2 separate regions of the Homo sapiens genome follow, and region 2 is linked to region 1. The links come from fine-mapping of genetic effects on gene expression. Tissue or cell type: whole blood. Region 1 holds a variant in brackets; the other region holds the start of a gene. All regions are shown on one strand. Distances are between the middles of the regions.

Region 1 (8,105 bases):
ATGTATGCTCAGATGTATGCTCAGAGGTACCTGTTTTAGCCCCTTTATTCTATGTGTGAGACCTGTCAACTGAAAAGTGATCTGAGAATCTCCAGACGATATGTAGGCTAGATTTGGACAATAAGTTTGAAATAGAAACTGAGGGTACTGAATCAAATTAGCCCTTCATTTATGAGAGAAGCAAAATCCCAATTAGGAAATATGACGTATACAATCTTCCATAAAAGAGATTTATGGGTGAGCTCATCCCAGTTTAGCGTTTAGCCGCTAAAGAGGAATGGAGGGGATTAATTAATTAACCCTTATTCCTTGGAGTGGACAAACTTGAATTTGCTTGCCAGCTCTGAGTAGATTACATAACTCATCTGAGCCTCAGTTTCTCCCTCTGTAAAAATGTAATGATATTTATTGTACATGGTTGTTGAAGTTATTAAAGGAGATAACATATATGGAAGTACCTAGTGTGATGTTTGGTTTAGAGTAGGAGCTCAACAAATGCTCCCTCCTCCTCCATTTTTTCTAGGGGAATACAAAGATCTGGGTTGTGCCAGAATGTTAGAAAGCTGTCATTACCAAGTCTGCAAGTTGCCCAGAAAGCCCCTCTAGTTTTTATTTATTTCCTGTATTATTTAGATATTTACTGTTTTCTTGTCATTAAGATAATTCATTGCCTACCCTTGAAATATTGTGGGGGACTGATATCTTTTTCCCTTTTCAGCTGAAGGCTAGTTCAGTGTTTTTTAGCTTCTTTTCAGGCTTCAACACAAAAAAGGTAACAAAAGGTAAGGAGAAAAAAATCCACTCTCCCCAATTCAGCTAGGAACCTATTCAAACTCCCACCGCAAGTCATACTCCCTACCCCAACTGTGTCTCTCTACTCTGGTCAAACACTGGCAGAAGCTATTTTGGGTCTCTGGTATGCATTTGGGAAATAGTCCATTCTTCTCCCATAGTTGCCTGTGGGTGTTTTTCCTGGGACCTAGTTCTTCCTGTTTCTCTCAATACCTGCTCCACAAGTTTCTTCAGCTATCCTGTGCTAGTGACCTATTGCCGAACTAGGGAAGCACCATTGGTTCTCAGAGATGGCTCCAAACTTTTGAGCCACACCCAAAGAGGAATGCTTCAGGTCAAAGCATTCCCAGGCTGTGTACTCACCCAGGCTCCCATTCATCAGTAATTTGACACAAAAGGCCCCTGGCTCATCTCTGATCTAGGAAGTTGACTACTGTGTTGACCTAGTGACCAAAACACTTTCAAGTTTAGTATTTATTTATGAATTATTTACCTACGACAAAATCTTGATGTGTTTAATACTTTGTAGATAGAACAGGTTTTGCTTCCAGTGGGGGATGAATTTCATCTACCAAAATATGATACTTGCTTTTAGAAAAAATAATCTTACAGTGCAAAGGCTTTCTGTTTGCTGATAGTTAAGCTCATGCCATATTTAAGTGTCCAGGTTCTCTTTGGGTTGTAACAATTTAGGAAGGACCTTGAGTAAAAATCCTTAAAATAAGATTATTAATCTCATGCTACTTGTAATCCAAGCGGAGGTGCGTGAACATCATTTGCCAGCCAAAATCACACATAGTCATGTGCTGAATAATGACATTTTGATCAACAACATATAAGACAGTTGTTTCATAAGTTTATAATGCTGTTTTTGTTTTGTTTTGTTTTTTTGAGATGGAGTCTCACTCTTGCCCAGGCTGGAGTGCAGTGGTACAGTCTCGGCTCACTGAAACCTCTGCCTCACGGTTTCAAGCAATTGTCGTGCCTCAGCTTCCAAGCAGCTGGGATTACAGGCATGCACTACCAAGCCTGTAATGCCATATTTTTAGTGTGCCTTTTCTATGTTTAGATATGTCTAGATACACAAACACTATTGTATTACAGCTGTCTGCAGTTGCCTATGGTACAGTAACTTGCTGTACAGCTTTGTAGCCTAGGAACAATTGACTGTACCATACAGCCTAAGTGTATCATAGGCTGTACTATCTAGATTTGTGTAAGTACACTGTATGGTGTTCACATAGTGATAAAATAACGTAACAACTCATTTCTCAAGATGTGTCCCCATCATTAAGTGAGGCATGACTGTTCTTGTATGATTAAGAACCTCCCACCCACCCACCATCTCCTCTGCCCCGATTTGTGTCTGGAGAGTTCTATTTAGCATCCTGTAAAGGGGTTAAAATTCCTTAAAGCAGAGTTCTAGGTTTAAAAAAAACCCAAGACTTTCACATATGAAAGTCTATAAAACATGTATCTTCCCTTTTTCTCCCCTACTGTTTGGCTTGGTGTTAATATTTAATGAGAAGATAGAGGTATTTGTACCTGGTTTCTCCATTTTAGAATTTAGACAGGAAGTAAACACTAGAAAATAAAGTGTGCTAAGAAGATTATAATATTAGTAATGGGGATAGTGGGAAGTCAGTGGGAACTAGAATACAGGTTTTTTTTTCCTTTCGTTATTTGCATTTCATTAACAATACAGAATTTTTTTGTCTTCTCTTTGAGACAAGGTCTTACTCTGTCACCCAGGCTGGAGTGCAGTGGCACAGTCTCAGCTCACTGCACCTCTGCCTTCCATGCTGAAGCAGTCCTCTCACCTCAGCCTCCCAAGTAGCTGGGATTACAGGCACATGCCACCACACCAACCTGATTTTTTTTGTATTTTTAGTAGAGACAGGGTTTCACCATGTTGCCCAAGCTGGTCTGAAACTCCTGGGGTCAAGCAATTTGCCCAGTCAAAAAGTTTTTAAAAAGACAATAATCTAATAACAGGCACAAGCCAATTGGTTCAGATCCTTATTAAACCTCACTACTAACTAGGGAGTCACTGCATCCTTCTGGGACTCCTGTTTTTGTTTGTGGGTTTTTCTGTTTGTTTGAGACAGGTTCTTGCTCTGTCACCCAGACTGGAGGGTAGTGACACAGTCTCGGCTCACTGCAGCCTTGACCTCTCGGGCTCAAGTGATCCTCCCACCTCAGCCTCCTGAGTAGCTGGGACTGCAGGTGCATGCCACTATGCCCAGCTAATTTTTGTATTTTTTGTAAAGACAGGGTTTTGCTATTTTGCCCAGATTGGTCTCCATGTTTGTCTGTTTCATCTGCTGAGATCATTCTACTTACCCAAATGCTGCTTTGCTATTTAGCTGCTTGCTAACAAAGCATTATCTCTGTGAACAATAGTTACATTTTCTTATTTGGGAAGACTCAGCTTGAGAAGAACTTGCTGTTAATTTCCCATGTAACTGTGAATAAATTGTTCAACCTCTAAAGGACTTTATTTTCTGTAAGAGCATGGTGAGGATTAGCAGTTTCTATATAACTCTTTTTGGAGATTTGAAAAAATTAGATAAAATTTACTTGAGCTGGGCACAATGGCACAGGTCTGTAGTCCCAGCTACTCAGGAGGCTGAGATGGGAGGATCACTTGAGCCCAGGAGTTTGAGGCTGCAGTGCACCATGATTATGCCTCTGAATAACCACTGTACTCCAGCATGGACAACATAGTGAGACTCTGTCTCTAAAATAAAAAAATAAAAATTACTTGAGACACCTTTCCTCACACACATACATAGGTAGATAGTTTCACCAGTACAAAGGAAAGTTTGGAAATGGCCAGTGCATGGAACTATTTGAATTATCTGGCAAACTTGAGCCAGGGAAATGGCAGGAACCTAGATGTATGAAATAAGAAGTAAAAGAGGCTTGTATCTAGGATTGAGGAGGATGGAGTGTGTGCCCAGTAAACCCATTTCTGTGATGTCATAGGAAAAACATCATAAATATACTGAAAACAGTGAAAATGTCAAAATATATAAAATTGGGAAAGTGGACATAAAGAAATGAAGACTTAAGGCCATGGACAGTGGCTCATGCCTGTAATCCCAGCACTTTGGGAGGCCAAGGCAGGAAGATCACTTCAATCCAGGAATTCAAGACCAGCCTGGGTAACATGGCGAAACCCCGTCTCTACAGAAAATACAAAAACAAAATTAACCGGGCGTGGTGGCACATGCCTGTAGTCCCAGCTGCTTGGGAGGCTGAGGTGGAAGGGTCACTAGAGCCTAGGAGATTGAGACCACAATGAGCCACGATCACGCCACTGCACTCCAACCTGGGCGACAGAGAAAACCCTGTCTCAAACAA[ACAAC/C]AACAACAAAGGCTTAGAGAAAAAAGTCAGAAGTGGGAATCAGTGAACAGTGGAGTAAGACTATGTGGCAGTCAACAAGCAATCTTTTTGAACTACCTCGCTAGGGATTGTTGGGGAGAACTAGGAGACTCACAAAAGAGAAAAATGAAACCAAATGTATATTTGTGATATATCTGTCTCACAGAGCACCTCTTGTGTGCCAGGTATTTGATGTCTGTCTTCTCCTTTAATCTTTGCAATTGCCCTTTGGAGTAGGTAGATTTCCTCTTTATAGAGGATGAAAAGGATCACCCAAGCTAGCGAGTTGCAGAGCTGGGATTTTAATCCAAAACCTGGACTGAGCACATGCATTAGCTGGTACAAACTGCATTATGAAAACATTTCTAGGTGCAAAATGGCAGGAGTGAAGATGGAGCACCTCTAGACATAATATGGGATGAACCAAAATCTAGTTTGAAAATGACTTCCAGAACCTTTGACAGGTTTGCAACCTTCTTATGATAAACATTGGTTTATTGTAAGGTTCAAAAGTGTTGGGAATAAGTGCTGAGGACTTTTGCAAGTATTCTCTGATTCATATATATTCCTCACCACCTCACATACCAAGTGAATCCCAATATTTCACACCTGATTTTACATAGTTCTTAAATTACCACTATTTTGTGTACCTCCTTGCCCCCCTTTATTGTTGTTAAAATCAATACGTTGTGAAGGCAAATATACCACAAAATTTAAAGTATCTATAGTTTGAAAGATGAAAATAGCCAGGTGTGGTGCCCCACACCTGTAGTCTCAGCACTTTGGGAAGCTGAGGCAGGAGGATTGCTTGAGCTCAGGAGTTCAAGACCAGCCTGGGCAACATAGTGAGACCCTGTCTCTGAAAAAAAAAAATAGCCAGGCTTGGTGGTGCATGTCAGTAGTCCCAGCTACTCAGAAGGCTGAGGTGGGAGGATCCCTTGAGCTCTGGAATTTGAGGCTGCAGTGAGCCATGATTGCACCACTGCACTCCACCCTGGGTGACAGAGCAAGACCCCATCTCTTTAAAAAAAAAAAAAAAAAAAAGAAAGAAAGAAAAAGGAAAACAGGTTCCCTGACTACAAAGAATCAAACTCTAGGTGTTAGAAAAGATCTCAGAGGTCTAGTTAAATCTCTTTCAATAGAGGATTTATTTCTGCAACATCCCTGACAAGCAGCCTCTCCTTGAATATCTCTGGTAGCAGGGTCTCATTTTCTAAGATAGTTTTTTTCATTGTTAGACATAGCTATTAGAAAGTTCTTTCTAAAATTGAACTAAAGACCAAACTATTTGTAAGACTTACTCCTTAGTTCTGTGGAGTTACAAAGAACAAGCTACCCCCTCATTACATGAGCTCTTGATACCTGAATTCAGCAGTAGGAAGTAGTTCCCTATTTCTATAGAATTAATCCCTGGTAAAGTCTTGGCTGCACTTGAATCTGTCAATATCATTTTGAATTCAGTCTGCTGTTTCACCTCTTTCTTGCCTCATGTTATTTGTAAAGATAAGCATGCCTTGTATTTTGCTGTCTTCATACTGGGTCTGAACAAAAAAGGCCAGGCAGGTAAGGTCAAAGCCGAGTCAGAGCCCACAGGCTGCTGCTAGAGAATATCTCAGGCCCCAGTCCTGGGAATTATTCTTGCTAGAGTGACATACATGTTGTTGTACAGACAGTCCCTGGCTAACAATGGTTTGATTTAAGCCCATCATAAATGGGAAATATTGTTTTCAGGAAGTAACCCCATCGTAAGTCAAAGAGTGTCTGTATATTATGAAAGGTCAGGTGAGAAGATGAGGAAAGGATAACAACAGCCTTCCTGCTCCTGTGAACTGTTTCTGCAGTAGGAAGGAAGTCCATGTTGTGGGAGTGAAGGCATAAGTCAGCCTATTTTGTAGTTTTGCCTAGGGCTCGGGATCTTCATATGCATACATGTAGTGAAAAGCAAAACTGTGTTCACATTTGTGTTTTATGTTCTAATGTTTCTGTGAGCATCCATCGATTGAAGGAGAAAGGAAGAAAGTGAACAGAAACTTGCCAGGTGGCAAATGACAAGCAGATTAGGATACAAAATATTGATACTTGACTTGTGAACAGCCAAGATGATATATTGTTGTACAGTGAACACTCGTATACATATGGGTTGTTTATACTTTTTGGCAATGATGATTAATGCTGGTGTGAACATTCATGTACAAGCTTTTGTATAGAAGAAATAAGTTTTCATTTCTTTTCAGTTATATCTGGGGTAGAATTGCTGAGTCATAAGGTAACTGTTAACTTTTTGAGGAGGTGCCAAACTGTTTTGCAGAGCAATTGTACCATTTTCCATTCCCAACAGCAGTATATGAGGGTTTAGATTTCTCCATGCCCTCACCAACTCTTATCTTTTTAATTGTAGGTTCATAATTTTTTATTATACTCCTCCTTCTCCCATCAACTCCACTTTGACATCAGACTCCAAACCATCACATCAGTGTAGCTCTTTCCAGCTCACTTTTGCTAAGTGATTTGGATCGCTAGCACTCTGACTCTGATTTCTTACTTATGAGGAGAGTTAGTTGATCTGGGTTTGTAGAGTTTCAAAATGGCATCACATTGTAAAGTTTAAGAACTTGGATTTTAAAGTCAAAACTGGATTCAAATCCTTGCTGCCCTACTTAATATTTTTGTGCCCTTGGGCAATTCACTTTAGAACTTCTCTGAGCTTCTGTTTCCTCATCTATAAAATGCAGATAATACCTTCTACCCTCTTGGGGTTGTTGAAATGAATTTGCATAGTAGGCACTGATTAAACTGTTGCTGTGGCTGCTATTTTTTAATCTGTTCTACTGGTATGTATGAGCCATGTTTAATATCAAATAAGATTCCTAAGAAGCCTGAAATTTGTAGGCTAAGAGGTTGTGTGGTAGCCTGTGGGACACATGCAGAGATCCCACATGTGTCTGCTTTTATCAAGATGTAGGCTGGTGACCACCACCCTGCTCCCCTCCCTGCCACCCAACAGTCCTTAGTTGAGGAGAGTAATTTCCTGCCAGATATAACCTTTCCCTTAAATCCCAAGAGACCAGCACTTTGGAATGCGGCTTTAAAAAAGTCTCTGGCCCCTCTCTGGTAAAGAGAGAGAATGATGAAACTATCAAACACCGAAAACACCACAGAAGAGTGGGCTAACATAGGACAGTCACGAAAAGACATTATGTTAACATTATCTTATGGCATTTTGTGAACTTAAATTTTGGTGGAAAATCAATTCTAGGGATGGGACCTGTTCCTGATCACGTACTCTGGGCAGCAGATGAAAGGAAAAGGCAGAGTCACAGAGAACTTTGACCCTAGTTATCCATCAAAAGTAGGACTGCTTTCTCATTAGCCTGTTCAGTCACTTCAATAACAGGAAGAGTTTCAGCATAAAAGAAGGCAGTATAGAGACTCCTATCAAGGATAAAGAAGAACTAAATAGAGTTTAGTAACATCGTAAAAAGGGTAAGACAATGCCTTTTAAAAAAATCCTTGTTTCTTAGAAAAGCAGTGGAGTTTAGGATATAATTATTTATTGCATAATTATTGGAAGGGAGAATGTTTATGATGCTGCAACATAAAAATTACCTTAAACACAGAAATTCATTATATTCTTTAAAAGTTTGTTTACATATTATAGATGTGATTAAAAAGAAGAAAGAAAGGAGATAGTTTTAGATGTGTGAGTTTGTTCTGGCATTTTTATTCTTTTAGTATGAAGTCCCTTGAGACTCACATGCTGGTGTTAATGTTAAATGTATGCTACCTGAGTGATAGTACATTCCCTGTTGGGATGAGAGCTACCCATCTGCCCTCTGCCTGACAGAGAGGTTTCCATTCTAGGCACCAGAAGCTAGACATATGTTTATTCTTCCCTTTTCTAGTGTTTTTTAAATGTGGAGTCTTC
Region 2 (8,099 bases), 230 kb before region 1:
CCAAAAGAAGGAATGCTTCCACCAGGAGACCCAACAACATTTCCATTGAATTGGGAGTTGAGGTGGTCACCTGGCCACCTTGGGTCTTTCATGCCTCTGAATCAACAGGTAAAGTGGGAAGTTCCTCTACTGGCTGAGGTGACTAATCCTGATTACTAAGCAGGAAATTCGGTTGCTACTACAAGATGGAGACGTATTAATGATAGGTAACTTTATATTGCAGTATTAAGTTATAAGACATCAAAGGTGGAGAAGAAACATCACTCAAGGACTTTGCATCCCCTTGGGAAAAGTGTTGTTATGTTTTCAATAGTATGCAGGATAGTTATATCATGTTAAGTGAAAGTATGACTTTGTTATTGTCTTTAAATTTTTTTTTTTTTTGAGACATAGTCTCACTCTGTCACCCAGGCTTGAATGCAATGGCATGATCTTGGCTCACTGCAACCGCCGCCTCCCAAGTTCAAGCGATTCTCCTGCCTCAGCCTCCTGAGTAGCTGGGATTAGAGGCATACGCTGCCACATCCGGCTAATTTTTGTATTTTTAGTAGAGATGGGGTTTCACCATGTTGGCCAAGCTGGTCTCAAACTCCTGACCTCATGATCTGCCCACATTGGCCTCCCAAAGTGCTGGGATTACAGGCGTGAGCCACTGCGCCCAGCCAAAGACTTTTTTTTTTTAAGAGATATGGTCTTGCTGTGGTACCCAGGCCGGAGTACAGTGGTGCGATCATAGGTCACTGCAACCTTGAACTCCTGGGCTCAAGGGATCCTCCTGCCTCAGGCTCCCCAGTAGCTAGGACTACAGGTGTACACTCCCACACTGGCTAATTAAAAAAAATTTTTTTTGTAGAAATGGGGTCTCATTAGGTTGCCCAGGCTGGTCTTGAACTCCTGGGCTGAAGCGATCCTCTTGCCTTGGCCTCCCAAAGTGCTGGGATTACAGGGTCCCTGGTGTGTTATTGTCAGCCTTTAGAGATCAAGTATGGTTAAGGAGATGTGTAGGAGTGTGATTGCTGGGTCATCGGTCTTAATTTTAGCTATCCTAATGAGAGTGTTGTGGTTTTAAATGGAAAAATCCCTAGTTGACTAAAGATGTTGGTAATCTCTTCATTGCTTATAGGCCATTTTTGTATCTTGTGAACTATCTACAAGATATAAAAAAAGCCTTTGCCCATTGGTTTATTGGGCTGGCTTATTACTCATTTATAACAGTTCTTTATGTATTCTGGATACAAGACTTTTGTCTAATGCTTTCTATTGCAAACTCTCCACCTGTGGCTTGCCTTTTCATTTTCTTAATGTTGTCTCTCAAAGAGTACCAGTTTTTAATTTTGATAGAGTTCAACTTATCAATTGCTTTCTTTTTTTTTTTTTTTTTTTTGAGACAGGGTCTCACCCTGTCACTCAGGCTGGAGTGCAGTGGCGCCATCTCAGCTCACTGCAACCTCCGCCTCCCAGGTTCAAGTGATCCTCCTTCCTCAGCCCCACAAGTTAGCTGAGACTGCAGGTACGTGCCAACAAGCCCAGCTAACTTTTGTATTTTTTGTAGAGATAGCATTTTGCCATGTTGCCCAGGCTGGTCTTGAACTCCTGAGCTCAAGTGATCTGCCTGCCTTGGCCTCCCAAAGTGCTGGGATTACAGGTGTGAGCCAGGCCATGAATCACTTTTTATGGTTCATATTTTTTGTGTCCTAAGAAGTCTTTGCCTATCCCAAGGTCACAAATACTTTTTCTATGTTTTCTTCTAAAATTTTCTTTTATAGGTTTAGCTTTTAAATTTAGGTTTATCATCCATTTTGAGTTACCTCAGGTGGCTCCTTCAGTGCTTCTGAAATCTATAAATGCATCCTCCACCAACCTCAAATCTAAGTAAACCTTGCCACCTCCTTCTCCTTCACTCCTCATTCAATTTATTGCCAAGTCCTGTCCATTTTACCACTACATTAGCACTCTTCTCTGTCACTACCCTCCTACTTTGCCTTGACTATGTGGCCAGTGGCCTCCTAACTGGCTTCCCGGCCCCAGCTTTGAGACTCCCATCAGACCACTCTTCACGTTGCTATCTAAGTAACTTAAAAACAGACATAATGGGCTGGGGGCAAGGTGGCTCACACCTGTAATCCCAGCACTTTGGGAGGCCGAGGTGGGTGGATCATGAAGTCAGGAGATTCAGACCATCCTGGCCAACATGGTGAAACCCCGTTTCTACTAAAAATACTAAAAAAATTAGCTGGGTGCAGTGGCGTGCACCTGTAGTCCCAGGTACTAGGGAGGCTGAGGCAGGAAAATCACTTGAACCCGGGAGGCAGAGATTGCAGGGAGCCGAGATCGCGCCACTGCACTCCAGTCTGCCTCTCAAAAACAAAAAACAGACATAATGATCAAGTTATTTCCCCTGCAACCCTGCTGAAAAAAACCTGAATAGCTTCTACCAAGCACTCAGATTAAAGTCCCAAATCCGGCCGGGTGTGGTGGCTCATGCCTGCAATCCCAGCACTTTGGGAGGCCGAGGCGGGCAGATCACAAGGTCAGGAGTTCCAGACCAGCCTGGCCAAGATGGCGAAACCCCATCTCTACTAAAAATACAAAAATTAGCCAGGTGCGCTGGCGTGCGCTGGTAGTCCAGCTACTCCGGAGGCTGAGACAGGAGAATCGCTTGAACCCAGGAGGCGGAGGTTGCAGTGAGCTGAGATCGAGCCATTGCACTCCAGCCTGGGTGACCTGGGTGACAGAGTGAGACTCTGTCTCAATAAATAAATAAATAAATAGGTCCCCAATCCTCACCTGTTCTCGCCTACCTCTTCCCACACTCGCAGTCTACTCCACATTCAATATTCTTTAGCGCTCCCCATTCTGGCCATGCCAAGACCTCACCCCTTGGAGCAACTAACTCCTCCCAACTCAATTCCTCAGATTCTACCCTCTTCATCCTCAACTAAATCAATTCCCCCATAAAGATTCTCTTAGTACCATATACCTCTCAGAAGATTTTTACTAATTGAAAACTTAATTTTGTCTGATTCTCCCATGAATGTTTTCCTTCTCCACCAGATCTCAAACTTCATGAGACCAGGGACTCCGTTGACCCCATATGGTACTCCCAGCTCCTTGAACACGGAAGAAGCCTCATTACATAAGTAATAAAAATAAAATAAATTAGGAAAATGGGAATTATAAAGGGATGGGCTGGTGGCTGCTTACAATCCCTTCAGTGGTAATACCTGGTGCAAAGTAATGAGTCTCTGCCCTTTTCCAAGCAGCCTGCTAGGTGGAATGAAGGAAGGCCTTGCGACTCAAATAGGGAGAACAAACGTGTGATCCAGAGCGGCGGGCAGAAATCCGACGAAACCCCATATTACTCAGGGGCGTTGCTCCTAGGGCGAGGGTGGCTCGGTTCCTAGAGCTTTTTGAGAGGAGGAGCTTACCTGGAGCAACTCAGCACTACCTGCAGCGGCGCAGCTCAACCAGCCCAGAGACCGCGTGGGAAGGCGGGCTAGGGGAGGGGCCACGCCTTCCAGGGCCCATCCCCGCCCCTGCGGCGTGCGCGCGCCCGTCCGCCCGCTCCCTTGCGCGTGCGCCGCCGGCCGGGGGCGGAGGTTGTGGGCGGTGGCGGCTGTGGCGGGGGCGCGCGCGCGCTCGCTCTCTCGCGCCGGTTCGCCCTCCCGCGCCGGGGCTGAGGCGGCGGCGGCGGTGGCGGTGACTGAGGCGGCGGCGGCTGAGGCGGCGCGGGGGGAGGGTCGGGAGGGGGGGGTGGTTGTGGGGGATGGACCGGGTGCGGCGGCCGCAGTGGAAGGAGCAGGCGCTTGAGCTCGAGCGACGGCGCTGGCGGAGACGCCGGCTGCTCCTCCCCTCCCCGCCGGTGAGTGAGCGCCCCCGCCCCGGACGCTGGCGGCGGTCGCGGCCCCCTCACGGCCCTCCGCGGTGGGTGGGGACAGTCGTGAGGGAGCGTGGCCTGGCGGCGCAGCGGACGCGGGCCTGGCCTCCCGCTCGCGGCCTGTCGGGGCTGGGACCTGCCGTCGCCCCCGTTCGAGGTTGAAGCCCCGGGCCTAGGACTCGACCCCCAGCATCCCACGGGGCCTCTTTCCTTTCCCGGCTCATTCCGCTGTCATTTTGACCTGGGGTTCCCCTCCAGCCCCTCGCCTCGTTCCCTTCCCAGCATCCCAGGGCCGAGGTGAGGGAGGGGCGTGTGAGAAGTCGGGCCGAGGCCCGAGGGACTGTTTAGGAGCCGGTTCCCGTCGGAATCTGGGGTTTTAGGAGCCCTCGATCGCCATGGCGTCCCAGAAGTTAGCCACCAGGACTCAGCCATTTCCACCTGAAACCAGTTTTGCACCTATTGTTTTGATTTTGAACTGTCTTTCGAGGGGAGGAGGGAGCCCGGCGTACTGGGGAGAATATGTAGTGGGAGGTGGGATGTGAGGAGGAGCTGGCTGGGCTTGGTCTCGGCCTCAGGATGCCCCCTGTTAACCCCTGTAGGATAGGGGAAAGAGGTGCAGCGAGTTGCACCTTCCCTAAAGGGCCAGAGATTCGTTTATAGCTTGCGAATCTCTGCTTTTTCAGCCTCGGTAAAGGGGTATCATTTGTGGTTGGTTTGGTTCGTCCCTTAACAACATTCTTGGTGAGGAATCCCCAGGTGAATCTGCCACGGAGTGAAGCAGCCCACTTGAGCTGTTGGCTACCCCCGGCCCCCGCAACGCCCGTTGGCTTTTGTGACACGTTACACGTTAGTGTTGGTAGAGCCTAGCCGTCAGAGGTACCTGTACCATAAGCATCTCTACGAAAGGTGTGAATTCCTAAATTAGCTTATTCTGTTCTTAAAAAAAAAAAATCCAGGGCATAAATATCAGATAGCTGCTTTAAAATAAAACAAAACTTTGATTTGTTCCAGGAGGTAGATACATTTTTTTCTCTGTATATTAGGAGATTGAAACTCAAATTGTGAGTAGGTGGTAGTTTTACTAGTGTCATGTGACAAAACGATGCTTATAGATGGGATTTTAACTTAATAACCCTGTCCTCTACCAACAGAGTTGGCTTGTATTTTTTTGCAATCACCCACTCTCTGGCTAGTGTAGAAAGATTAAAAAGCTGCTTCTGGTCTGTGGGTGGTAACCTTTTAATTTCTGAAGAGTTTTGAGCTGCTTATAGATTGCTGATCAGCAGCATAGGAAAATTTTAGACGTTAAAAATTCATTAGCATGTGATGTAGAACTGTTATAATTATGAGCATTGATTAAGATTTGGTATGGTGTAGGTGCTGTGTACTGTGTATAAGAATGAGATTTCTCAGAGCATTTGCATCTTAAGATAAACAGAAGCACAGACCGCTGACAGTGTTGGGACACCTTGCAGAAGGACTCTTTTATGAGCACAAAAGACCTGTAGTCTACAATTTGATGAAGAACCCCAGTGCCCTAGACTAGTTGGTGACCAACCACCATTACTTTAAACTGGGCCTTCTTGATAGTAGAATATTTCCCCTTTTCTGCAAGACTGCTTATGCCTCTCATAAATGTGCAGAACATATAATGGCTCAGGGCTTAGGTTTAAGCTCCTCAGAGTGGCATTTATGGATCATTCATTAATTCATCAAATGTTTATTGAGCCCTTACTTTGTTCCAGGATGTTTTCTAAGTACTGGGCTACATTGTTGGGACAAAACAGACAAGGCCTCTTCCCTAATTAAGCTTTATTCTGTATGTATGGGAATGAGGAATATACAACAAACAAGCAAATAGGATCATTTCAGATAATGATATAAATCAGTGGTTAGTAAGCTTTTTTTGGTAAAGGACCAGGAAGTACAGTACATACCAGGGTTTTTGGGCCATATGATCTCTTTTGCAACTACTCAATTCTGTTTTAGTACAAAAGCAGCCACAGACAGTACGTGAACAAATATGTTTATATTCCAGTTAAACTTGGGACACTGAAATTTGAATTTCATAAAATTTTCACATGTCACAGAATATTAATGAGTTTTTAAAAATATTTTCCCCTAGCCATTTAAAAATGTAAAACCATTCTTAGCCATATAAAACGGGGCAAGGTGGATTTGGCCTATAGATTATAGTCTGGCCTTTTATAGAAAATGTTTGCTGACCCCTAATATGAATTATGAAGAAAATAAAACAAGCTGATGTGACAAGTGAATGACTGAAAGGTGGGTGGAGGGTTACTTAGTGAGAGGAGGCCTCATTAAGGAGAAGGTATTTGAGTTGTGACCTGAAAAATGGTAGCGCTTTCCTGGTAAATGAAACAGTGAGTGCAAAGGTCTGCAGGTGCAGATGAGCTGCTCTTGTTTTCCAGTGTTGAACTTCCCCACATAACATGTCATTCTTACATTTTATGTAAATACATTTTATGTCTTTGTTAGAATGTTGTTCTTCATGTAATAGGATGGTACCTTTCCGTTTCCTCTTCCTGATCCTGCCTTACAGTACCCATGGAGTAAGACTGCAGTGGAGTTGCACCTCATCCCAGGGTTAGGTCCTCAAGTTAGTGCATGAGGCAAAAATCATGTAAGATGAAAACTCTTCTGGAAAATTCCATAAATTGCTCAAAAAGTATGGTCTGCATGTTTTTGTATGTATAGTTGTATAAAATTCTTACGAATATGAAAGGCTGAGAGCCACAGAGCTTGACTGAGGGAAAGAGCAAGAGGAAATAAATTGTTATATAGGTATCTGGGCCTTCAGACTGTTTGGCTTTTTAAAACTGCTCTGGAGTCCCTATCAGAGAGTGGGGGATGGTATAGAATTTTGACATGTTCCTGTTTCCATGCAGGGTTTAATTCTATTTTTATGTTAAGCCTCTATTACATTAATACATGCTCATAGATGTGTTGCGAATATTAAACAAGATAATGTATTTGAAAGAGCCCGGCACTTAAGATAGTCAGTAAACATTTGCAGAATTAGAATCTGATTTTTACTTCTTTGGGCTCACATACATACTGTCCTTTGAAAAGTTGTAGAGAACTTAGCCACCTGCTTCCTGTCTATCCATATTGGCATTTCCTGTTGTGGCTCCACTGAACAGCTGTCACTCTCTTTGTCCTTGAGCATTGGTCACATTTTGCCAGAGGTTGGCTTGTAAGTTAAATGGGTATAGGTGTAACTCTGTTAGTTCTGCCACATGACCCTTAAAGTGTTTGAGCACTGCTATTATGTCTCCTATTTAAGTCTTCACTTTTCAGAGCTGAATGTTTTTATTTTTCTTTTTTTTAAAGATATTATGGAGAGAGATGGGGTCTCATATGTTGCCTAGGCAAACTCCTGGCCTCAAGTGATCCCCCTTGCCTTGGCCTCCAAAAGTGCTGGGTTTATAAGCATGAGCCACCATGCCCCAGCCATTTTAATTTCTGTTAGCTTTTTCTTATTTCTTCACCCTTCTGGTTGTTGTGAGCTTAGTTTATTCTTTTTTTTTTTTTTTAACTTTGCTACTCTGAAGTATATTTTAAGGTACAAATTCAAGTTTTATCTCCTTGACCAAATCTTTCCTGATAATTCTAGACCTTCTTTATATTCTTAATATAGTTTTATCTTTACTCTTCAATTTAATTTTTTCTTATTTTTGTATTTTATACTAGTTTCATGAGCATTTGTCTTCACTCTGCGACAACAAGCTTCTTGAAGGCAAAGACCATATTTTAAGTATCTTTTGTGTCCTAGATGCACTGAGTAAAATTCCAGGGATGCCGTTGATCATAAATTTGTTATAATTTTTAAAAATAGACTTTAAAATTTAGATTTACAGAAACATTGCAAAGATACTGCAGAGTTCCTGCCTATCCTACACTGTTTCCCATATTATTAACGTCTTACATCCCTGTGATCATTTGTCTGTATTAATAAACCAGTATTGATACATTATCACAGAGACCATACTTTATCAGGTTTCCACAGGTTTTTTCCTTAATGTTCTTTCACTATCCCAGGATCCCATCCACAATACCACATTACATTTAGTAATTATGTCTCCTTAGCTCCTCTTGGTTGTGACAATTTCTCAGACTTTCCCTGTATTTAGTGACCTTGGCAGTTTTGAACATTACTGGTCAGGTTTTGTTTGTTTGTTTTTTTGAGACAGGATCTCCC

The links. PIP is the estimated chance that this variant, and not a neighbour inherited with it, causes the effect.
Region 2: it holds the start of TMCC1, and the variant in region 1 is fine-mapped to the expression of TMCC1 in whole blood (TOPMed, PIP 0.98).

The regions. Positions count from the first base shown.
Region 1 is chr3:129,656,214-129,664,318 of GRCh38, reverse strand. All of the region lies in intron 5 of TMCC1 (transmembrane and coiled-coil domain family 1), which reads left to right. Among named protein-coding and RNA genes, the nearest start is that of PLXND1, 54 kb to the right of the region's middle. RefSeq lists an enhancer at 5,372-6,199. The variant ACAAC/C (reference allele first, on the strand shown) is at 4,159.
Region 2 is chr3:129,889,257-129,897,355 of GRCh38, reverse strand. It overlaps TMCC1 (transmembrane and coiled-coil domain family 1), which reads left to right and starts at 3,645. Exons shown (of 7, transcript NM_001017395.5): 1 at 3,645-3,862. It overlaps TMCC1-DT (TMCC1 divergent transcript), which reads right to left and starts at 3,485. Exons shown (of 3, transcript NR_037893.1): 1 at 3,429-3,485. RefSeq lists a silencer at 3,388-4,117 and enhancers at 3,479-4,270, 4,271-5,063.